Linked DNA regions of Homo sapiens. Each later gene encodes a partner of the first gene's protein in a complex. Each region holds a gene or a part of one and is shown in the gene's direction. Other genes may lie near its edges. The genes, in order: ICOSLG and ICOS.

What was found.
Region 2: the proteins of ICOSLG (region 1) and ICOS are in contact, whole or in part, in a crystal structure (PDB 6X4G), measured with the Homo sapiens proteins. Residues at the interface, in NP_056074.1 of Homo sapiens: Tyr51, Tyr53, Gln55, Lys60, Val62, Tyr65, Ile67, Gln69, Asn75, Leu114, Leu116, Gln118, Gly121, Phe122; in NP_036224.1 of Homo sapiens: Gln50, Lys52, Thr66, Thr68, Gly70, Ser71, Phe114, Asp115, Pro116, Pro117, Pro118, Phe119, Lys120.

What each region holds. Positions count from the first base shown.
Region 1 is NC_000021.9:44,233,743-44,245,935, reverse strand, and holds the start of ICOSLG (ICOS ligand isoform a precursor), read left to right. Parts: upstream 1-4,992; 5' UTR 4,993-5,118; coding exon 5,119-5,132; intron 5,133-7,111; exon of another isoform or gene 7,112-7,338; coding exon of another isoform or gene 7,339-7,396; exon of another isoform or gene 7,397-7,447; coding exon 7,448-7,488; intron 7,489-8,718; coding exon 8,719-9,069; intron 9,070-10,373; coding exon 10,374-10,664; intron 10,665-12,193. UniProt on the Homo sapiens protein: Ligand for the T-cell-specific cell surface receptor ICOS. Acts as a costimulatory signal for T-cell proliferation and cytokine secretion. Also induces B-cell proliferation and differentiation into plasma cells.
Region 2 is NC_000002.12:203,930,606-203,942,822, forward strand, and holds the start of ICOS (inducible T-cell costimulator precursor), read left to right. Parts: upstream 1-6,157; 5' UTR 6,158-6,209; coding exon 6,210-6,267; intron 6,268-6,295; exon of another isoform or gene 6,296-9,829; coding exon of another isoform or gene 9,830-9,890; intron 9,891-9,911; exon of another isoform or gene 9,912-10,153; intron 10,154-12,217. UniProt on the Homo sapiens protein: Stimulatory receptor expressed in activated or antigen-experienced T-cells that plays an important role in the immune response.

The sequences.
Region 1 (12,193 bases):
AGAGAAACCACGCACCCTGATTGTAGCTGCACCAAACAGCCTGGACCTTTGCAAAAGTACAGGACCTCAGCCTTGGCAGACAAAGGAGGGACCTGCTGAACAGACGGTGCGGAGGCCAAGGCCAGATCCACACACAAAAGTACAGGACCTCAGCCTTGGCAGGCAAAGGAGGGACTTGCTGAACAGACGGTGCGGAGGCCAAGGCCAGATCCACGCACAAAGGATGTCACTTGTGGGTCCTACCCCAGGTGGTATTGCTTGCAAAAAGCAGGGCTCCTCCTGGCCCTCTGCAGTCTGAGTCTCAGTGAGGATAAACCCAGCAGAAAGCTCTGCCTCAGGCTGTGCTCGAATCACAGGAAATGAATCTTACAGGGGAACTTTGGGGTCTGCACTGGGACTATTAGTGGTACGTAAAATGCTTTGTGGAAGAAAGGTTAAAATTGGACCCTTTGAAGGTTAAAAAGGTGTATCTGGAAGTAGAATAGAAGCCTTCACTTGAGTGAACATGACTGAACGCCTCTCCCATCTTGGGACAGTCCTGGATGCTTACGACACACATCTCACGTCCAGGGATGAATTTAGCAAGCTCTGTAATGACCCCGGGGTTCCTGAAGCCACAGAGGGAGCACAGGTGAGGGCATCCAAGTGCAAATGAGCCCTCTGGGGAGGCCTGCTTGAGCTGACACATAAATGGGGTTGAAGCCATTGTGAGCCCATGGGCACGGGCCAGGCAGGGTGGTGAGAGCTCCAGACAGGGCGGGCTGGGCTCAGGCTGTGTCCACCCAGGGAACCAGTGTCATGGGCCCAACATAACTCGTGGTCAGTTTCTGTGAGGGCTGCTTCAAAGCAGGGGCCCAAGGCTCTGTTAGGGGCTTTCTGCCACCCAAAATGCACTTTCCTTCTTTTGTTCTCTCCCCAACACTCAGAACTGTCCACACCACCTTGAGATTCTCTATGTATTTTATTTTAAATTTTTATTTTTTGAGACAGGGTCTAGCTAGTCCCCCAGGCTGGAGTGCAGTGGCACAACCATAGCTCACTGCAGCCTCCGTCTCCTGGGCTCAAGAGATCCTCCAGCCTCAGCCTCTGGAGTAGCTGGGACTACAGGTGCATGCTACCATGCGCTGCTAATTTTTAAAAATTATTTGTAGAGATGGGGTCTTGCTCTGTTGCCCAGGCTGGTCTCAAACTCCTGGGCTCAAGTGATCCTCCCACCTTGGCCTCCCTAAGTGTTGGAATTACAGGTGTGAGCCACTGTGCCCGACCTGCCAAGTATTTGAATTTTATACACAGGACCTGTATCATGATCCCATGCTCAGCTGAACCACCCTCCAAAGGATGCCCATGTCCCCATTCCCGGATCCTGTGAATGTTACCTCATGTGGCAAAGGAAGGACTTTGCTGACGGGATTAAATTGAGGTGGAAGGCCTCCCTGGATCATCCAGGTGGGTTCTACGTGTCATCCCAAAGGTCCTCATAAGAGAGGGGCAAAGTGAGGCTTGACCACACAGAGAAGCCACATGGCCACTGAGGCGGCTGCTGGAGCTAAGCACAGGGATGCCTGGGCCACCCAGAGCTGGGAGAGGCAGGTAGGATACTCCCCTAGCGCCTCCACCAGGCAGGCTTCCGCTCTCCAGGGCTGAGAGAGAATAGACTGCTGTTGTTTTGAGCCAGCAAGCGTGAGGTCGTTAGTTCCAGCGCCCACAGGAAACGAACATACAGTCATGCACCACATAACCTTCGGTCAACAAGCAATGCCACAGTGCTCCCATATCACAGCGCGGTATTTTTACTGCACCTGTTCTATGTTTAGATGGCTTTAGATACACAAATACCAGTGAGTCACAGCTGCCTACGCTATTCAGCACAGTCACCTGCCGCGTAGGCTCGTGGCCCTGGAGCAGCAGGCTGTGACACACAGCCTCGGCGTGTAGCAGGCTGTGCCACCAGGGCCAGTGTGTGCACTCTGTGTTCACACAAGGACAAAATCACCTAAGGACGCATTTCTCAGAAGGAATGTATCCTTTTCGTTAAACAATGTATGACTGTTCCCCGAAGAGAAAAGATCTTCCTTGGACCAGAAGTTGAGCTCTCAGCATCAGCGGACGCCCATGCTGTCAAACGCAGGTTGCTGTGCCAGACCCCAAAAGGACCCGGGCCTGGAGGTGCATCAAGGTGGAGATCAGAAGACCCCCACGCCCTCGAAACGGCAGAGCAGGGCGGCCTGGGGCTAGGGGCATCAGGCAGCTGCTTCCTGCTTAAGCACTACGACTCGCACCCAGAGCCTCGAACTCCAGGCTGCACAAATACGATTCCTGCTTGGTTCCCAGTTGGCCCTGGACGCTGCCAAGGGGCCCTCTCTCCACACCCCTAGAACAAAAGCCTATCCTGCCGGCCCAAGAAACAGTCACGGTTGAGGGGGAAAACGAAAACCTTCCTTTGACTACAGGAAACTTCCCAAAGGTTTCCCTGTTTCTTCATCTAAACCCATCTAAGTGTTGTGACACATGTGCCGGTGTGCTGTGTGCGTTCACTTACAACAGCCCCATTCATGTATATGTCACACGTCAGGGGATGCAGGCACCAAGGGGCTAAGGAACTTTCTGGGGTCACACAGCTCCGGAGTTGGGATCTGAACCAGCCACCGCTTACCGTGGTCTCCGAGGTTCCTGGGCTGGTCCTGGCACCCTCCCCCGCGGCCGCCTCGGCCTGCCTCAGTGTCCCCTTCTGGCCCAGCTGCCTTCCTGCCCCTGCCTGGCTGTGGCCTCCACGCGGCGTCCCCTCTCTCGGGGGGGCGGGGGGGGGGCTGCCCGCAGCACTTGGCTTGCTGGGGTCTCCGGCGTCTGCCCGGGAAGCAGAGCCTGGACCTGCCCCCTCGGCCACAGCACGGCGGGCCCTGCGGTGTCGGCCCCTCTCCCACCGCCCCCGGGCGGCACTGGGGGGCTGCGGGGTCCGGACGCACCGACAGGGCACCTTCCCTTCGCCGCCGCGGATGACCGGCCGCGCTCTTGGGAGGCCTTAATTTGGGAGGCTCTGCTCCCCCAGGACCCATTCCCCATCCTCCCAAAGCCCCCACGCGGTATCCGGGGGCCGTCCCCCTCTCCGCAGTCCCGCGGGTGGAGGGGATTCAGGTGCGCCCGGCCCTGGGGGTGGAGCGCTCGGCCCGGCGTCAGCTCATCGGCGCGGCGCAGCCCCGGACCTCAGCCGCAGGCCCAGAGGCGCGCGGTTCCCGGCCGGTCAATCAGGGAGGGCCTCCGGGAGGAGGTGGCGCTGCCCGCAGCCCGCCCGGCTCACCTGCGCCCTCCTCACCTGCGCCCTCCTCACCTGCGGGGCCATGCGGTCCCTTACCAGCAGCCGCCCGCCCCGGGGCGAGGAACCTCAGCCCCCAACATCGCCACCCCTCCAGCCTCGCCGGTCCTAGCCGGCGTCCCTGGGCGTGTCCCGGGAAGCGCACGTCCACGCTGGCGCTGGACCGGGTTTTCTGACTCCAGGGACGGGACTCGTCCTAAAGAGTCCGGCTCAGATGCGGTTACGCGCCTCACCTCACCCGGGTGCGGACCGCCAGTGCCTCCGCCCTGCACTCCGCGGGCCCTGCCCAGCTCTTCCCGCCGGAGGGCAGGTGGCCCCCGCCCCGCCCCTGCCAGGCGCGCGATTTTAAATCCCCCCAACCCCCGTCTCTCAGCGTGGCCTGGGAGGGGGAAGCCGCCCGGCTTCAGGGCTTCCTGCGCCTTCGCCGCCGCCCTCCCTGCCCTTCCCCGCCGCCGTCCCCCCTATCCCCCCAGCCCGTCTCTTCCGCCTTCTTATTTTGTGCCTGGGCTCTCTGCTCCGCAAAAATGTTGACTTCCCACGGGCAGAGGTTTCAGAATTTTTTTAAAGCTTTTGTCCACGGCGTTCTCTACATCTTGGTTGAAGGAATGGCAGCCTGCGGGGTGCCGTCTGGGGCCCCCGTCTCCCTGCGCTTCTCGCCTCCTCCATGCGCAGGAGGCGGTGGGGATCCGAGCCTCAGCCCAGAGGCGGGGGCTCCGGGAGGAGGGTGCCCCGCTGCCCTGTCTAGCAGCCTCACCCAGGCCCTTCCGGAGGTGCCTCTGCAGAAAGGGAGTCACGTCCCCCCTGGGCCTCACCTGGCTTGCAGGGATCAGGGAGGGAGGGCGGGGTGGGCTGGGTGCGGTGGGGAAGGAGCAGGGACTCTGGGTCCCACCCTCGGTTGCGTGGTGCAGCCTTTCCCAAACCAGCTGCCCCAGACTCCAGGCCAGACGCCACTGCCAAGGCTGACGAGCCCAGAGCCGCAAGCCTGCCTCGGTTTCTCGGCGGGGGATCCTCAGAGCCAGTGTTAAGCAAAGAGGCTGCGCCAGCGCCCTTCACACCCCTAGAAGGCTAGGGGAGCAAGGCTAGGTGGGGGCGGGCTGGGGCTGGCCCAGAGGGTAGAGCCCGCCCACTTTCCCTCCCTCCTTCCATTCATGCATGCGTTCATTCAGTCATTCATTCCTCAGCAGTCGCTGAGCTCACTCGCCTTAAGTCCTGGAGATCATCGGAGCGCAGCCGGCCAGGGGCCTGGCGCTCTCCCAGCCTTGGGGCCTGGGTCCCCGGACTCCTGCTCGGGGAGGGCCGCAGGACCGGCGCATTGTGCGCGGCGCGGGGAACGGCCCTTGCCTCCCACGGTGCCCTCCCTCGCTGCGCCGGCACCCGCAGCACCCCTGGCCACCTTCCTGCCGGGTACCCCCCACCCCTGCGCTTCCCAGGGCACCTACGGCGCCCAGGTCCGCGTCCAGGCGGACAGGCCGACCTGCCTCTGTCCCGCCTCCGGCCGACGGGCACACGCCTGGGCAGAGCCGAACTTTCCGGAGCCGCCGCGCAGCGCCCCGCCTCCTGTCCCGGGGCGGTCTCGGTCGCCAGAGGAGCCAGGCCGGGGGCGGGGCGGGGACGGGGCGGGGACACGGCTGCCTCCAGCACACCGCGCGCTGGGCGCTCAGAGCCTCGGGCGCGGCGGGAGCGCAGTTAGAGCCGATCTCCCGCGCCCCGAGGTTGCTCCTCTCCGAGGTCTCCCGCGGCCCAAGTTCTCCGCGCCCCGAGGTCTCCGCGCCCCGAGGTCTCCGCGGCCCGAGGTCTCCGCCCGCACCATGCGGCTGGGCAGGTGAGCCGGGGAAGGAGCGGAGGCGCCGCGGTCAGGGGCGGGGTGGCTCGGCCCGCGCGTCCCCAGCTCGGCTCGGACGCGGGGCCTGCGGGGCTCGCCTGGAGGTGCCGGGCTGGCAGTGCGGGTCCGAGGAGCGGGCGGCGGAGGCGCCGGGGCGGCCGGCGGGGCGTGGACGGCAGTGGGCGGCGGGGCCTGGCACCGGGACCCATGGCAGGACGCACAGCCGTGCGGGGGCGGGCTCGGGGGCGGGGTCCCTGCCAGGGAAGGAGGACCGCGAACGCTGGAAGGAGGGAGGGAAGGCGGGCGCACCCTGCACGCCGGGGCACGGGCGCTGCCCCTTCCACTCCCTGGCACTGCTGATTTCCTAGAAGAAGGGAGAAGGAGGGAGGTGACCGGCCGAGCGCTCTCCAAGGCCAGCTGGTGCCCACGGTCTGCGGACACGCCCTCCCCCACACACGTGGGATTCCCCGCAGCCCGGCAGCCGATCCACACTGGGGAAGGCGGGGCTGCCTGAACCAGGAGTGACAGCTTCCTCCTGGATTTTTGCGAAAATATCCAAAATATACTCTTCGCAACCCACGTTGTAGGGTCCGCAGCCTGTGCTCCCCTGGGTGAACCTGTGAGGCCCCTGACCCCAGGGATGCCTCCCGCACAGCTCAGAGCTGGGCCACACCGGAGTCACACTCCCCAGGTCCCCTCCCCATTAGAAGTGTATGCAGTTATGATCCTGCCCTAGAGAGAAAGAATTTAAAGGTCCCGGAATGTCATAGCCCTCCCAAATGTCTTAGCCCTCCGCCACCCACACCTTCAGGTAGGCGGCCCTGTCCATGCTGGGTCTTGAGGCAAGCTCGGGGTGGGGGTAGGTTAGATGCAGGGGTGCTGAGGGTCCAAGGAAAGGACACAGAGGCCGCTGCTTAGGCAGCACCCAGGGAGGGGACAAGCCAGAAACAGCCTGGAGCAGGCACCCCCCACCCTGGCCCAGGAAGCCCCCAGATGTCCTGAGGAGGCCTCCATAGACAGGAGGGGCCTTGTGGGCTGGTGATGAATATGGGCACTGTGGGAGACAAATGGGGGCACAGAGGAGTTCTCACAGCTGTCGTTTAGATGGTGGCTCTGGGGAAATGCTTGAAGGGGCTAAGGGTGGAGGCAGGGGGCCTGCTGGAGGCCATCACAGCCATCTTGCCAGCCAGAATGGTGGCCCCAACAGGGGGAGTGGGAGAGAGAGGAAGGGCCGCCTGCAGACTTCAAGAGCCCCTGGTGGCCAGGGGCCGCCTTGGTGCATGTGTGCTCACTTGGCACAGACACACCTCCATGCAGACTCAGATGACAGCCATCGTGGGTGGGGCAGGGGTTTCTGTGGCTCCAGGGCTCAGGGACAGCCCACTGGGAGGTTCCCACAAGACCAACCTTTGACTTACAAAGCCCCCAAGCTTTCCCAGGCAGAGGCCACAGAGAAGAGGGATGAGCGTCTCCCAGACCTTGGAGGTGCAGGGACATCAGAGAAGGAGATGTCCCTGCTCCTGGGGCTCTTGCTTCATGGGGAGCTGGCCCCAGAAACTGATGGTTTGGGGGGCTGGGGTAAGCACTGCTACCAAAGTGGTCCCGGCCACTAAGGGCCCCCACGTGGGGAAGGCATCCTGGGGGCTGGCGGGAGGAGGTGGCGAGCCTGTGGCGTGCAGGGTGCAAAGGCTCCCAGACCCAAGATGGCAGGGGCATTGGAGTCACGAGGGGAATTTGCTGCCCGAGGCAGGGGCACCAGCTGCAGCAGGATCTGAAACAGGAGGAGCTCAGGTTTGGTTTCAAAATGATCCGCGTTCCGCACAGGGCTGTCCCGTCACTCACCTGACCCTGTCACGGGCACGCCTGATGTTCTCCGTCTCCCCAGCATTTTAAGTGACACTCCTACTATATGTGCCCTGAAAGCTTTTTTTTTTTTTTTTTTTTCTGATTTCCTACAACTTCTTGGCATCTGTCCCCAGGAAGGCTAGACCAGCCTCACTGGCGTCCCTCGCTCCCCTTCATCCTCACGCCAGCATCACTGTGTTTCTGGGGATTTGTTACCGCGAGAGCTAGAGAGTGGTGAGAGGCTGCCAGCCCCTCGGACTTGCTGTGCTGGGCAGGAGGGTGGTGGTCCTGGCCCCGGACCCCGAATTCCCATGGAGAACAGAGGCAGGCAGGCTCCTGGCTCTGCCTTCACATTTCTGTGATGGGCTTAACTACCTCCTGCTCATGGGAACCAGCCTGTTCCTGTTTGGAAGATACAGGTAACTCCCTGGTGGCCCCGCCTCACCTGCCTTTCTGGTTGTTTTTTCCAGTCCTGGACTGCTCTTCCTGCTCTTCAGCAGCCTTCGAGCTGGTAAGTTCAGGGGGTGCTTTGCCATGGGGCGCCCAGCTCAGAGATGGGCTCTCCGGCTGTGTGGACTGCTGGCCGCAGGGCACTGGGAGCAGCCTCACCAGGCTCCTTCTTGCTTCTCAAGTGGTCCTTTGGAGACAGTTGGACCCTAAACCTAGGTTGCTGCACAGGATAGAAGCGTTTCCTTAAAGGGAAACACTTCTGCAAACTCCGGAGTTCTTGTTTGACTCCGTCTTTGTTGCGGGCAGAATGCAGTTCCTCTGAGCCAGGGCTTCCTGGGTCCCCTGGTCTCCCTGTCCCAGGCAGCAGCCCTGCTGAGCCCTAAGAGCCACCAGCCTCTGGAAGAGCCAGGAATAAGGACGAAGCACCGCAGCACAAACCTGAAACCTTGCCAAGCCTTCCAGCCCAGAGGGCTTTGGGGGCAGGGGACACACACAGATTTTCCTGCAGGTGCCAGGTGCAGTGGCTCACTCCTGTAATCCCAGGACTTTGGGAGGCCAAGGCGGGTGGATCACCTGAGGTCAGGAGTTCGAGACCAGGCTGGCCAACATAGTGAAGCCCGATCTCTACTAAAAATACAAAAAATTAGCTGGGCATGGTGGCGGGCACCTGTAATCCCAGCTACTTGGGAGGGTGAGGCAGGAGAATGGCGTGAACCCCAGAGTCGGGGGTTGCAGTGAGCTGAGATCACGCCATTGCACCCCAGCCTGGGTGACGGAGCAAGACTCCATCTCAAAAAAAAAGATTTTCCCACAGGCATTTACGTAGCTGCACAAACAGTAAAGCTACCCTGTGTCTGCCACATTTGTGACAGCTTTCCTACTGCAAGTGAGCAGCAATATAATGTAATTGCTGAGAAATTCTTTTCCCTTAAATGCCTTTCCCTTAAAGAACTTTTTATTGTGCATTAATTATAGACTCCCGAGAAGTAGTAAAAGTAGTGCTGAGTAACAAAAATAACACTGAGCGGCCAGGCCCCATCCAGCCGCTCCTCCCCATGGCAGCCCCTTACATAACAGGAGTGTGTCATCGAAGCCAAAGACTGACATGGACCTCACCATGAAATGTCTGCGTTTTTCAAGTTTGACTGCATTCCTACATGTGCCTTGTTAATAAATTCTGAGCCACCGTTGGTGTTTGAGGCTTGAAACCCAAAGTCTGCCCCATAGAGTAGCTTCATGGCCTGGGCATCAGCCTCCGAAAACAGATTTTGCACCTTTTGGGCCATTGCAGATACTCAGGAGAAGGAAGTCAGAGCGATGGTAGGCAGCGACGTGGAGCTCAGCTGCGCTTGCCCTGAAGGAAGCCGTTTTGATTTAAATGATGTTTACGTATATTGGCAAACCAGTGAGTCGAAAACCGTGGTGACCTACCACATCCCACAGAACAGCTCCTTGGAAAACGTGGACAGCCGCTACCGGAACCGAGCCCTGATGTCACCGGCCGGCATGCTGCGGGGCGACTTCTCCCTGCGCTTGTTCAACGTCACCCCCCAGGACGAGCAGAAGTTTCACTGCCTGGTGTTGAGCCAATCCCTGGGATTCCAGGAGGTTTTGAGCGTTGAGGTTACACTGCATGTGGCAGGTAGGACCATCGAGGCGGGGAGAGCTAGGTCCATCCCAGCCTCACATCGTGGACAAGTGTTCATGAAACCCCCTCCCTGGCTCATTCACTGTTTCTTCCAGTGAAGAAAATTCTCATCTGTGTTATCAGGCTTCTGTCTAACTTCGAGGGAAACTAAACAGCTGAAAAATCCTTAGTGCATGACCTGCGGCTGCTTGGTTTCCCGGAAGAGCTCCTACCCTTGCTGTCTTTGCCTCTTGAGTTAGTTAGCTTTTGTTTTTGTTTTTGTTTTTTGAGACGGAGTCTCGCTCTGTCACCCAGGCTGCAGTGCAGTGGCACAATCTTGGCTCACCGCAACCCCCGCCTCCTGGGTTCAAGCAATTCTCCACAGCCTCCCGAGTAGCTGGGACTACAGGCGCGTGCCACCACACCCAGCTAATTTTTGTATTTTTAGTAGAGACAGGGTTTCACCATGTTGGCCAGGCTGGTCTCAAATTCCTGGCCTCGTGATCCGCCCGCCTCAGCCTCCCAAAGTGCTGGGATTACAGGTGTGAGCCACCGCGCCTGGCCAATTAGTTTGTTTTTTGAGACAGGGTCTCACTGTTGCCCAGGCTGGAGTGCAGTAGCGTGATCACGCTGCAGCCTTGACCTCCTGAGCTCAAGCAATTCTCCTGCTTCAGCCTCCTGAGTATCTGGGACTACAGGCACATGCCACCTCGCCTGGCTAATTTTGATTATTTGTAGAAATGGGGTCTCACTATGTTGCCCAGGCTGGTCTCAAACTCCTGGACACAAGCGATCCTCCTGCCTCACCCTCCCAAAGTGCTGTGATTACAGGCGTGAGCCACCACATCCAAACTAGAGTTTTAAAAGTGAAATTTGAAGGGAACTCTATAAAGCACTAAATGAGAACAAAATTTAAGAGAAAAATAAGAGGCAACCAAGGAGCTCTGGGCAGTTCATTGGGGAGAACAGCTGTGTCCATTTCAGATGGACTGTGAGCCCCTGTGTCAGCAGTGAGAATGACCAGATCCAAATGAGGGGGTCCCGGCACAGCCGACGGCTGTGGAGTGGGGGGTCTGTGGGTGCCAGTCACTGCCCGACAGGCTCAGCGGTCCCTGGCTACTGGGACTGGCTTGGGGGATGACTCTTGGGCAGGACAGGGCGGAGCCTGCTGCTCGGACCACAGCCCTGGTCCTGGCCTGTCACCCATGTCGGGGCACAATGGGCCGCCTCCCCTCTGACCCAGCCTTGGCACCGTGTACCCTCTGTTTCTTGACCAGCAGGGTCTGGCATCTCTCACAATCTGTTTCCCTCCCCTGCAGCAAACTTCAGCGTGCCCGTCGTCAGCGCCCCCCACAGCCCCTCCCAGGATGAGCTCACCTTCACGTGTACATCCATAAACGGCTACCCCAGGCCCAACGTGTACTGGATCAATAAGACGGACAACAGCCTGCTGGACCAGGCTCTGCAGAATGACACCGTCTTCTTGAACATGCGGGGCTTGTATGACGTGGTCAGCGTGCTGAGGATCGCACGGACCCCCAGCGTGAACATTGGCTGCTGCATAGAGAACGTGCTTCTGCAGCAGAACCTGACTGTCGGCAGCCAGACAGGTAAGGTCCCGGCGCCTGCGTGCTGAGCTGTGCCCGACAGTGGGGCCAGGGCTGGCTTGGGAGAGCCTCTGAGGTAGGAGACAAAAAGTCCCTTCGACGCGGCTCAGCACCCGAAAGGTGGTTGGAAGGGAGGGGAGGTGAGAGGCACATGCCGCACAGTGAGAACCACCGCGGTCTCTGGGAACAGGAATGGGTGCCGTGCCCAGTGCATATTGCTCCATTTTCTTCACCTGGAGTCGGTTTTCTTAAACCTACTTTACAGATGAGGGCTGAACTCTGAGGCTGGGTAACACTTCAGAAGCCGCAGCACTAGGCAGCAGCAGCCCAGAACAGAAGCCCACAGCTGTGCAGCCCCCACCCAAGCTCCCTGCCTCTTGGGCGTGTGTCCCCTGAGAAGACTGAAGCCCCCAGACACGGGAATCCCACTGCGCACGGCTGCTGGCCCAGCCCCTCCCTGTGGAAGGGGTGCCCTGTGGAAGGGGTTCCTCTACGGGGACTCCTTTGTAGAGGACACAGGCCCTCCCCATTTGTGTCCCCATCTCCTGTGTCAGGATGAGAGGCAGAAGATGGAGGCAGGAGATGATCGAGGAGGGGTCCTGGGGCCCTGCTGGCTGCAGGAAAGGGGCTGCCAGCAGGACTCACCGTGTGGCCCTGGGCAAAGCAAGAATGCAGGGCTCCTTGTTTCGGGAGCATTAAGAATTCCAGACAGTGACCACAAGCATTGCACCTCCTGCCGGCCTTTCTGAGCTCAACCCCAGAAGCCTGCACAGGTCATACCCTCGAAGTCCACCCTGGCCGCCAGGATCCCCGGCAGAGCCGGACCTTCTCCTTCTTGAAATCAGGGCTCAGCCCTTCTGACTCAACATTCAGAGTGTCTGAGCTGCATGCAGCGGGATGAGGGGCTGCTCCCAAAGCAGCCTCTGATAACTGCCTTCCAGCCAGCATACTCCCCGCAGAGCAGCCCAGGTGGCAGCAGAAGCTTCTCCCAGGGCTGTCGTCTCAACCCCGGCCACACAGTGGGGTCATCTGGGCAGCCTATGAAAGCCCCCATGCCCAGACCCATTGCACCTGAAGCTCTGGGCTGGCACCTGGCATCGGGACAGTGTCTAAAAGCTTCAGAGGTTCAAGGTTGAGCACCGTCCAGGTGGTTTCTCCAAGTGTGTTTGGAGACGCGCCGGGCATTCAGAACAAGCTCCCAGGGGGATGCCGCTGCTTGTTTGCCGGTGAGGACGGCTCTCTGAAGGGCACTGCACACAGAGACCAGAGGCATTGTTAGCTTTGTGCATCGTGGCGGAAAAGCAGAAGGGCGCAGCTGCCATGGGGAACGTTGTGGCAGTTCCTCGAAAAGCTCAGCGTGGAAGCACTGCAGGACCCAGCAGTTCTCTCCTAGCGATATAGGCCAGAGGATTCAGAACAGGGACTCAAACAAATGCCTGTCCGTGAATGTTCATGGCAGCCAGAAGGTAGGAACCACCCGAGTGTTCCTCGTGGGTGGACGGATGCACCAAACGTGATCCATGCGTGCAGGG
Region 2 (12,217 bases), on another chromosome or scaffold:
CTTGCATGGGGCCTGTAGCCCCTTCATTTTGGCCAATTTCTCCCATTTGGAATGCGTGTATTTACCCAATGCATGTACCTCCTGTATTCGTCTGTTCTCACATTGCTACTAAAGACATTCCTGAGACTGCGTAATTTATAAAGGAAAGAGGTTTAATGGACTCACAGTTCCACATGGCTGGGAAGGCCTCACAATCGTGGCGGAAGGCAAAGGAGAAGTGAAGGCATGTCTTACATGGTGGCAGGAGGGCTTGTGCAGGGGAACTCCTATTTATAAAACCATCAGATCTCATGAGACTTATTCACTACCATGAGAACAGTATGGGGGAAACCACCCCCACAATTCAGTTATCTCCACCTGGCCCTGCCCTTGACACATGGGAATTATTACAATTCAAGGTGAGATTTGGGTGGGTACACAGCCAAACCATACCACTCCCATTGTATGTAGGAAGTAAGTAACTTGCTTTTGACTTTACAGGCTCATAGGTGGAAGGGACTTGCCTTGTTTCAGATGCGACTTTGGACTTGGACTTTTGGGTTAATGCTGGAATGAGCTAAGACTTTGGGGGACTGTTGGGAAGACATGATGGTGTTTTGAAATGTAAGGACATGAGATTTGGGAGGGGCCAGGGGCAGGTTTGGCTGTATGGTTTGGCTGTATCCCCACCCAAATCTCATCTTGAATTGTAATCCCCAGAATCCCCATGTGTCATGGGAAAGACGTGATGGGAGGTAATTGAATCATGAGGGTGGTTTCCCCCACGTTGTTCTCATGATAGTGAGTGAGTTCTCATGAGATCTGATGGTTTTATAAGCATCTGGCATTTCCCTTGCTGGCACTCATTCTCTCTGCTGCTGCCCTATGAAGAGGTGCCTTCTGCCATGAGTGTAAGTTTCCTTAGACCTCCCAAGCCATGCGGAACTGTGTGTCAAGTAAATGTCTTATCTTTGTAAATTACTCAGTCTCAGGTATTTCTTCATAGCAGTGTGAGAACAGATGAATACAGAACTGTAGAATGGTAACTCAGGAGCCAAAGACAGAACTAAGGGAGCCTGAACTCTGCAGAGGCTGGAAGGAATGGGATCCAGAGAGGTGCCTTACTTATGTTTTGAGGAATATACTATCATTGGAATGAAGGCCAACATGAATAAGTGGCAGTATATTTGTTAAAAATATCAATCATACCATTTGGCAGTCACATCTCATGCTGATTTTTTTCACCCCTCATGGAAATATATAATCAGTTTTCTGGGCTTTATGGATTAATTAATAACTTTAAATGAGAAAATATTTGGCTGTCAAAATGGAATATACTTTTGTTTTATGATTAGAGATGGGCAAGTGATGAGAGATGAATCAGGATGATGAATTATATATTTATTCAATTAATTTCAATGTGAAATACAAACATGTTTTGATAATTTTCTGCTCTCACATTATGATTCAGAGTGAAAAATTGTCATTGGTGAGCATTCCCAAGGTCATATGGTTCCTCCAAAAGTCAAGGATTCTTCAAACACTTGTTCATTCAATAAATAGTTGTGGAGCATTGCAAACATACTTGCAAAGAAGGCATCTTTAGGCTGAGGCGGGCAGATCACAAGGTCAAGAGATCGAGACTATCCTGGCCAACATGGTGAAACCCCGTCTCTACTAAAAATACAGAAATTAGCTGGGCATGATGGCATGCACCTGTAGCCCCAGCTACTCGGGAGGCTGAGGCAGGAGAATCGCTTGAACTCGGGAGGTGGAGGTTGCAGCGAGCTGAGAGGTTGCCACCGCAGTCCAGCGTGGTGACAGAGTGAGACTCCGTCTCAAACAAACAGTAACAAAAAAACCCGAAGACATCTTCAGTTCTTGTTCTGATGTTTCTCACAGTTTAGTAGAAGCTGTTGGAAAGCAAACAGGCCATTACAGTGGTATAATTGTTACAATTGTTACAGGTAGCTAGACAAGCATGAGCTGGGCAGGAGAGGGCTCTTCCCCCACTCATAGGAATGCTGGGTGATGGTTTGGCAATTATCACATTGCCTCTCTAAAAGTGATAAATTGGCAGCTGGTGCCAGGGAGAGGTCATTTCCTGATGGTCCACACCTGTTGCACTAAAGTGTTAATTGAATGCGGGTACCAGGTAGAAGCAACTTCCTGGGCCTGCGCATTAAGAGACAAAATGGCCTCTGGAGGCACACCACCAGAAAAGGGAAGAAAGCCTCAGATGAGCACACGTACAGTTTCCTAAACACACTGCATGTGCTCACCTCCTAAGGGTAAGGAGGGCACTGCACATGCGGGCAGCCCACCCTAAGGGAAGAATCCTGTGAAAGAGGCCAGCCTATAAAGTCCTAAAATCAAGGTTAAACACCACACTTGACCTTGGGCCTCTTCCAAGCACATGCTCCTTTTTTCTGTTCTAAAGCTTTTTAAAATAAACTTCTATTCCTGCTCTGAAACTTGCCTCGGTCTGTATTTCTGCCTTATGCTTCTCAGTCAAATTCTTTGTTCTGAAGAGGCAAGAAATGAGGTTGCTGCAGACCTGTACAGATTTTCTGCTGGTAACTAAGATACCTTCCACCGATAACATAATGATTTCTAGGATGGGGGACACAGAGGAGCATTGGGAGGTTGCAGAAAAGCCACTAAATGGACACTAGTTATGGGGGTGGTTGGGAGTGAATGACATTGGTTTGATGTCTTTGATGAATCGATGGGTATGGAAGCAAAGGCCTGAAGAATGGTGGAATATCTGCCAAAGAAGGTAGGCTAGAGTGGTGAGGAGGGGAAGCACAGACAAAATGATGGCTCCTGGCAGTAGAAGGAAGAGTTAGTTTGGGGAATTTGGAGAACTTCATGTCATTCAACGTGATGGAAACATTTGGTACAGAAGGAAGAAAGAACAAATGTGGCAAGAGATGAGGCCGAACTGGGGAAGGAGTTGCCCTTCATAAGGAATCTTGAAGGGGTGTGGGCCTTACCTAAGAGAGGAAGCCAGTGGAGGATCCTGGGTGGGGCGGGGACACAGATGAATTCTATTTACATTTTACAAAGATTACTCTGGTTGTAGCATGAAGACAGACCAAAATGGGACAAGGGTGGGAATAGAAATGACAGAGGCCTGATCTAAGTCAGTGACCTTGGCAAGCGAGGAGGAAAAAATACTTGAGAGACAGTTAGGAAGTAGAGTAATTGGGGTTTATCGGTGAATCAGCAGGAAAAGGGAGAAGGCTGGTTGGTGGTACCACTCAACAGTATAGGCAAGGTAGGAGTTGAAGCAATTGTGATTAGGAAGGACCTCTCACTTTTGATGCTTGTCCCTTTCAGAATGGCAAACCAAGCTTAGGTGAAGCCTAGATATTTGGGGGTTACTTTCTAACCCTATTGCTTGGACTCAACCATGCTGGTGTCTGAGCTCCTCTACTCAGACAAATGTTGCTTTCAGTAAGTTGCAAGCAAAGCAAAAGAAAGACATTCACCTACGGCCCTTCAGAAAAGCAAGCATGCTGCATGATGAACTCTGGTGCCCAGGAGGCAAGAAATAAAAAACACTTTTAATGTAACCAACTTTCCATGCCCCACCCTCACCCCAGGCGTCTGCATACACAAATCAAAACCATCTTAAGTCATGGAATGAAAAAAAATTAAAAGCAAACTAAAAGCACTTCCTGTGAGGTGAATGGAAATTTTTGCCCAGTTAATTTTCCAGGCACGTGAAAGCAGTTCTGAATATTTTAAACCACAAGTACTTGTATTCTTGACCAAGATTTTTGAGAAGGCGAGGCATGGGAAGGATCATTGAAACAGGACTTTGACATAAAACATTGTTTACATAGAAGTGAGCTCTTCTCCACTATCGGATCAATTTACCACCCAGTGTCTGACAAACTGAGAAGCGAGAGGGTTGGGAAAAAGCAAAGAGATACATATCAAACAAAACCACACATATCCAGTTGAACTAAAGCTGAATTTAACCATAACTTGTGCAACTTTTCTCCCCTTGAGGTAGAAACATTACACCTCCAATTGACCAGGACATCTTTTTTTGCATTCAAATTATCTTGGAATTTCCTCTAGGACCTAAGTATCCTTCCACCATGAAAATAGGAGACCAAAAAAAGTAATGCTTCCAGTAATTTCTAGCCAAATAAATGAGGATAAGTGTGTGAGTGTGGTGGGGTAGTTAAGAGTTTGGAATCCAGAGTTTCACTGTCTGGATTTGAACAGGCTCCGTTGCTCATCAGCTCTGTGACTCCGGGCAAATGACTGAATCTCTCTAACTCTCAGTTTTCTCATCTATGAAATGAGAATAAGTAACAGACTCTCCCTCGCTGAGTTGTTTGAGAACGGGATCAGACAATGCACGTGGAGCCCCGTGTCTGGCACACACTATGTCCTCATTGCATATTTATTATTAGGTTTCTGCTTTGTATTTTTCTCTGTGCAACAGCCCTGAGCTCTAGAACTTATGACAGCTTTTCTCAAGTGAAGTTAAAGTTCCCCATACTCAGTTCCAGAGCTAGGCCTCACCTAGGTTGGAAGAAGTCAATTGTTCTCCACTGCCTGCCTGTGTGCTGGGAAAGGACTCTAGCACAGTGCCGGTGGGGCTGGAAGCCTTTCCTCATGATGCTACGGGGAGTACAGTGAAAAGGGAGGAGATTGGGGTAGCAAGGTCCCAGGGGTCCTGGCAGCCCAGGCTCTACTTCTCAGGCTAGCTCAGTCCCTCAAACAGCTTCCTTCACACCCACTGCTGAGACCCAGGAGCCCTACAGAAGGTAGCTAGGGGAAGCTTCAGCAGCTAGGGGGATCCCTGCAGGATCAGCCTCCTCCTTACCTTGCAGACCCCTTGGCTGTGGTCTGGCATTCCTAGTGGCTGGCCTAAAGCCCCAAACCTGGAATCTGTTTCAGAGCCTGGACCTTTTGGACTCACACCTTGGTTTCCCTGGCCAGCTGATTTCAGCTTCTCATCTAAATGTCATTTCTGCAGGCTAAGGGAAGTCCAGCCTGGATCTAGCATCTTGGAAGCGCGTTCAGACTTCTGGATGGAGGGATCAGCAGGCCTTGGTATTGGTGGTTCTACCTGCTTCGGTTAAGAGTGAGGACTCTGGAGCCAGACTCTCTAAATCATAGCACTGACACTTACTATATGACTTGGGCCAGGTTCGTTACCTGTCTGTGCCTCAGTTTTCCTCATCTGTAAAATGGGAGATTAGTGGTCACCATTGGGATGATTAAGAAGATTAAATGAGTTAATGTATGTATAAACTATAGTTATAATGTAAATATATATACAAACAGTAACCATTTACATGCATATAAAACATAATATAAATGTAATATTAGCTATATTCATATATAAAAATAGGTATATTTTATATATAAAATATATTACATTTAATTTTTTACATTTTGCATTAAGATATATTATTTCATATAAAACATTTAAGTACATATACATATAATTATCTATGTAATTATTATTGTTATTGTTGTTATTGTCTACTTTACCTCCCTGCAGGGATGGGGAGACCACGGCAGGCTTTTAAACATTCTTGGTCTCACTGAGCCGTAGGTGAGGAATCCCTGGTTCCTACAGACTCTGCTGTAATATGAGGAGCAGGGTTTAAGTTAGTTTAAAACTGACCCCATCATTTGAAACATTGCAATCTACAATGAATGCCACATAAATATCATTTCTCAGATTCCTATGATGCTCTTCTTTCAGATCTTTTCACTTCAATTTCTATAATAATTTTGTTTGTTTCTTGTCCTATTTCAAAGGCTTTCTTATCTCTGGAGCACCTAGCATAAGATAGAAATGTGTCAAAATATATGTTTTATTCATCATGTGAGTATTTTTAGGTCCTGTTAACCCCCATAACTATTGATTCAGAGAAGTAGGGTGGTTCTGAAAAATACAGGCATAATCTCTTTAACTTGTTTTATAGGAACCAGAATAAGGGTAATGTTTTCCTCTGTCTTCAAAATCATCAATAATCCATGCATTGTTTAACTCATGTCATAAGCAATAATGCCTTTCATATAGCCATTGGCATCAAAGAAGAAACACCCCCTTGATTTGATGGTAAGCGTGACACTACATAAACTCCCAGAAAACCCACTTCCTTTCCAGCAAATAGAAAACAACCGAGAGCCTGAATTCACTGTCAGCTTTGAACACTGAACGCGAGGACTGTTAACTGTTTCTGGCAAACATGAAGTCAGGCCTCTGGTATTTCTTTCTCTTCTGCTTGCGCATTAAAGTTTTAACAGGTAAGTGGTGTATTGAATATTTCTTATTAAGTTATAATTCAAGTAAACATTAAGAAAAAGCAAAGGTAGAAAAATTACGCACCCAAAAGACAGTGGTTTTGGTTTTTGAAAGTAGGAATAGTTTCAGGATATGGCCAAGGGCACCATGTCACTCATGTCACTGTGGATGGCATTGAGTTTGCATTGCTGCCTTTGATACTGTGTCTTGAGATGAAAAACATGTTTCATCAGACCATTAAATTTTTAAATTACCTGCTTGGAGTTACCTGTCAGTGGATAAACTAGCAGAGTGGCTTACTGTTCTTAGAGAAAGATGAAAGGCAAAATGACTTGTGTCAACAGAATGAAAATTAAATAGCTCTGGCATTTGGACTGGGAATTCTTTCTGTGGTAGAAAATAAAATGGGAAGTCTTTGAAAAGAAGGATTTTGATTTTAATCTTACCTGGATGATCTGTTATCTGAAATGTCCAGGGCACCATAGAGTTTTTATTGACACTAAGTATCAGAGTTCACCCTAAAAAGCCAAGGAGGAAAGGATAATGTAAAAATACTTCCTAGCCCCTGTAGACCTTACAAAAAAGATCATTCTGGAGTCCCTGATTCCTTCTCTTGAATGGCATATAGCAGACTCTATATGGACAATTTAAATAATGCTACATACAATGTAAGTTAATACACGTGTTTCTGCTGCTTTTTACTGTATATAATTTGTACTACTTTTGTTTTCTCTTTCACACTGAGCCCTATTCTTGAGGTTGAAAAAAGGAAAGTTAAGTAATATTAAATAACTTAAATAATCAAATAAACTAAAAGTGAAGGCAGAACTTTTAGTAGGTATGATCCTATCTAGGGATACATTTTTTCAGTGGCAAAAAAATAGACCTTACTGTTCTTACAAAAAATGAAAAAAAAATGAAATCAAATTGATCAAATGTTTCATCTTGTGCTGGCTCAAAGTGAGTTAAGTGCAGTTAAGAGGATTGAGGAATGTAGAATGAGCACAAGGACAGTTTTGGGCTACTTGCTGGTTTATGCCTTTTCTAGAATCTCATGAAGTCCTTTAGCGGCATGAATGACATGAGCAGCTTTGGAATTTATATTCATTCTTCATTCATCCATTTACTCATGTAGCATTGAGCACCTGCCTGGTAGCAGGTACTGTGCCAGATGGTGTATGTACAAGGATGAGCAAAACCAGGTCAACCCCTGTTCTTTGGAAGGTAACTGCATGGTAGAGAGAGATATATTAATCAAATAATCCCATTGATTAATGATAATTACAGGCAAAACTCAATTATATGAGGGAATGTAACAAGGAGCTTGACTAGACTGGGTGGGTGTGGAGGTGTAGCTGAGGAGCAGGGTTCATTGAAGTCTTTCCTGTGCAAGTGGCACTTGAGCGGAGATTTCAAGGACAAGGTAGCAATCAATGGGGAGAACGGTATGAAGGTAGGGAAGAACGTTCCATACCATGGAAGGAACAAGTGCAAAGAGCCTGTGGCAGGAAGGAATGAGGTAAGGTTAGGGAACTAGAAGAAAGCAGACAGATGTGCCTGAGCACAAAGAGGGAAGAGGCTGAGCTTGGTCCAAGATGACCAACTGGTCCAAGTTGGTCCAAGGTGAGGCTGGAAAGGAAAGTAGAGGCCAGACCATTCAGACCATATAGTCTATGTTCCAGATTTTGGATATTCTTCCAAGAACGTTGGTACCATTCGTGGAAGGGTTTGTTTGTATTGATAAAAATCATTCAACTAGGCCAAACCAATTTGGGCAGTTCTGGTTGTGGTATTATGCTCAGGAGAATTAAAGTAGCATCGGTGTCAATTCTGTGGAAGGTGAGATCCAGCCTTAGGTAGGATTGTTTTAAGTTTCCAGATTAAGCTGACGAATAATTTGTATTCTGGAACAATATTCATCGTAGATTCTAAATGAATACAACCAATGTTCACTCTCATTATAAAGAAAGCCATGAGATGTGGCATGCTGTTTGGCATGTGGCAAACCTGAGGCACGAGTGGCTAAATGGTAACAATAAATCTGCTAGCAATGATCCTATTTAAAATATCTCCACAATGCATGTATCCAGAAACTGCCATGTAAAAGCTCTAAAGAAAAAGAGCCAAACTCAAGTAAACTAAGTACTTGCTTGTCCTCTGTTGTATTTTCAATCCTCCCAATTTACATAGGCTTTCTCATGCCATGAAGATGTAGGCATTCTTACCTTTAGTCAGTGTTTGAAGAATTTCCAACCAGGAAAGGTTAAGTGATTTGTTACACAGTAGTTGGTGGCAGAACCAAAGTTAGAACTCTAATGTGACTCCAACATCTACATTCTTTCTAAACTGTGTTGAAGTAGTGGAGGTGTAACATAAATCTAAAGGAACGTAAATCTCAATGATTCTGATCACCTTTGTTATTTGGTTGTGAATTAAGAAGGATGGGAATCTTGCTGATTTCTAGTCTTTGATGGATCTCAATGTAGAATTTAACAAAGTCTTGTTTTTTTTTAATGAACTTGGAGCAATAGGACACTTTTAATTATAAAAATATCTACGAAAAATGTGAATGTCTAACTACATTTTGAAGACCCTCTTTGTAGACCTTATAGGCAACAGGGACCATATGAGTGATGGGACAAATTCTGGTTTTAGAAAGACTACTTTAAAAGCAGTGTGGATAATACACCAGATTGGGAAGGGCTGATGGCAGAGGGTGTCTAATAAACGTGCATGTATTATGATGTGTTCTGTGAGGAAGCTGGGAGGATAGCCCTCAAGGCCACTTTGAGCCTTCCTTTGTCACTGAGGCATTCCATTAGTGACTCCTGAATTCCACTTGGGAAAAGAGCCCCTCAGTGTCTCCAGCGTCTGAGAGAAGTCTGTGAAGATGACTGACCTTGGAGCCCCTCTTAGCCTCTCCACGACTGAGTAAATGTCATCTCCTGACAGCACCCCCTTCCAGAGTGTTCTTGTTAGATTTAACAAAAATCCCAGTTGTCAATTTTTTCTTTTGATAGATGAATTCAGGCCATTCCCAGTCAGCATAAGCCTCTACTTGATTTTATTTCTATGTTTATTTACTACTTATTTTTCTTTGTTGTATCCTCTTTTTCTCTTTTATTTTTGTTGGTGTGATGAAATTTCTTTTGACTCTCCTCTTTGCCTCCGGTTAATTTGGAAGGTCGACTACAGTTCTTAATTTACTAAGTAATTGACATGTTCAAAGAATCTTAATTGAATGTCTACTTGTTTATCATTGTATGAAAATAATGAAAATGCCTTTGTCTGATGTGCCTAGTCCCCATCCCCTGCACTGATATGAGAACTTAAGAATGTTCTTCCTTTCCCACTCTCACACTTCCCCCAGACAGTGCACCCTGCTCCATACGTGGGTTTTGTGGAAATAATTTAAAACTTACAGTTGCAGATCATTGCTAGGTTTCCTCTTACAGTATTTCTCTTCTGTTTCAAGAATCCTTTCTTAACACTTACATCACATACGTTCAATGACAACATCATTCTGGACATCTGCTCCTGTCTTGTGATCTCTGTTCTAATCTAATGATCAGAAGACTTCTCTTATTTTCGTTAAATACCCCCAACTCTCTGAATTCCAGTACAGGTAAGGGTGTCTTCCTTTTACCTTGATGAGTGACTGATATCTTTCCTGGGAATAGGAGTCCTGGATGGCAGCCTTTCTTCTTAGTGGTTGCAGATATTCCTCCACTGTCTGCTGGCTTCTAGGGTTGTGGGTGAAGAGTTTGATGGTAGTCTAACTCTCATTCCTTTGTAAAAAAAAAAAAAACTCTAGAATTTCATAATCTTGAAAGCTATTTACTTCAGTATTGGAATTCAGGAATTCCTCCAGGATATGTGTAACTCTCTCCCTCTGTTTCTCTTTCTGTGTGTTTCTATTAATTTTTTTTTTGAGGCGGAGTCTCACTCTGTCGCCCAGGCTGGAGTGCAGTGGCGCAATCTCGGCTTACTGCAACCTCCACCTCCCGGGTTGAAGCGATTCTCCTGCCTCAGCCTCCCAAGTAGGTGAGACTACAGGCACCCGCCACCACGCCTGGCTAATTTTTTTGTATTTTTCGTAGAGACGGGGTTTCACCGTGTTAGCCAGGATGGTCTCAATTTCCTGACCTCGTGATCCGCCCACCTCCGCCTCCGCCTCCGCCTCCCAAAGTGCTGGGATTACAGGCGTGAGCCACCGCGCCCCGCTGTTCTATTAATTTATTATTATTTTTTTTAAGACTGGGTGAAAGTTTTCAATCTCTAGACTCAAGCTTTATTCTTCATTTCAGTCATTTTTTTCCTAGTATTTGTTTAATCATACCTTATGCTGTTTTTCCCCACTCTTTCTAGAAATGTCTCTTATTCTTATGTAAGATCTTGAGTCCCTTATTTTTTCATCATTTGTGAACAAAATGGCTTTCACAACTTGCTGTTGCTTGTTAACCACAACTCCTTCAGATGAAATGGATATTTCAGTTTTAAGTTACTAGTAGCATATTCCCATTTCTTGGTAGAAACAAAATGCAGGCATGTAGGGGGGACTGAAATTCTTATATTTACTCACTGTAAGATTCATAGCATTATTTGGCTTAAAAAAATTCATCCCAGTATTCACAGTTGTAAACAGCAAAATCTACAACATATACTGCTTCCCTACTCTAAGAATATTGAGTTTTATATGCAAAATGACTTACTGGGCTTTGCAAATTTTTAAAAATGAGTTTTAAAATCATTTGTAGCTTGCAATAACTGAAGAAAAGATCACAATTTCTCTGTAAATGGCATCTCAGTACTACTGCTGTTCTAATAAACTAGGTCTGTCAAATGGCACTTTTTGGTCATTCAAAGTGAAAAAAACATGGCATTTGAAACCTTATAAAAATTCACAATTATATTTTGGAAAGTGGAACTTAAGTATGTAGGGGATATGTCACACAAATTGAAAGTGTTAGTCAAGAAATGATTTTTTTTTTCAATAGTTTGGCCTGTAAGGTTGACCAAAACAGGTAAAGATTTGCAAGTTTAGAGAGTCAGAAACTGGGGATATGAACTTCCTTCTGGTTCATGTATAACATAATGATGCTTGTATCTACTTTGCTTGAGGAAAAAAAAGAAACACGTTGTCCCCAAATAGGGTGATAGACCAGGAGTTTCCATCCAGTTGACCACGAGTGTTGTTAGGATCTGTTTATTTGAGTCATGTTGACACAGACACAGCACTTTCAATAAGCAATTAATGATCATTTAAAGGTAACTTTTTTGAATTTGATAAATAGATTTTTTTTACAGCCTGTATTTGTGTTCTTCTAGGACTTTGCAACAAAGAATCTGTACATGCAAAAACAACAATAACAACAACAAGCTGTCTACTGCACTCACAGTTAAAGTTCTGTTTACTTTGCACTATCTAGGACTAATGCAAAAATCTCATAGATGTGCCTATTTGCACTTATTTAATTATGATGAAATTTACTTCTATATGTGAATCCATTTCTGTACATTTCTACAGGCAGATAAGTGATGGGAAAATCATTAAGAATTTAGACTTCATCAGAGAAGAACCCAGGTACAATGACAGCCCAGCTTAATACATGATGGCTGATGAATGAAAATGTCTAGGGAAATGAGTGTGTTATGTACAATGTAATTTCATATCTAAGTCACTTTAAAATAATTTTTTGATATATAATAACCCTTTCAATCACAGAACACATATGTGGCACCAATGTGAATACTACTTTAAGTATTAAGGTGATAATATATCCAATATACCTAGAAGGAAAATAAATACCTGAAATTCATTTTCATATCTAGCTTAATGTTAAAAGCTTCTTTTTGTTTTTTTATTTCGTAGCAAATCTCTTTAGCTCTGATGCTTTAGTTTCTGTACAATGAGAGGATTGGACTAGATTATTAGGTGAAGAGATTAAGTAA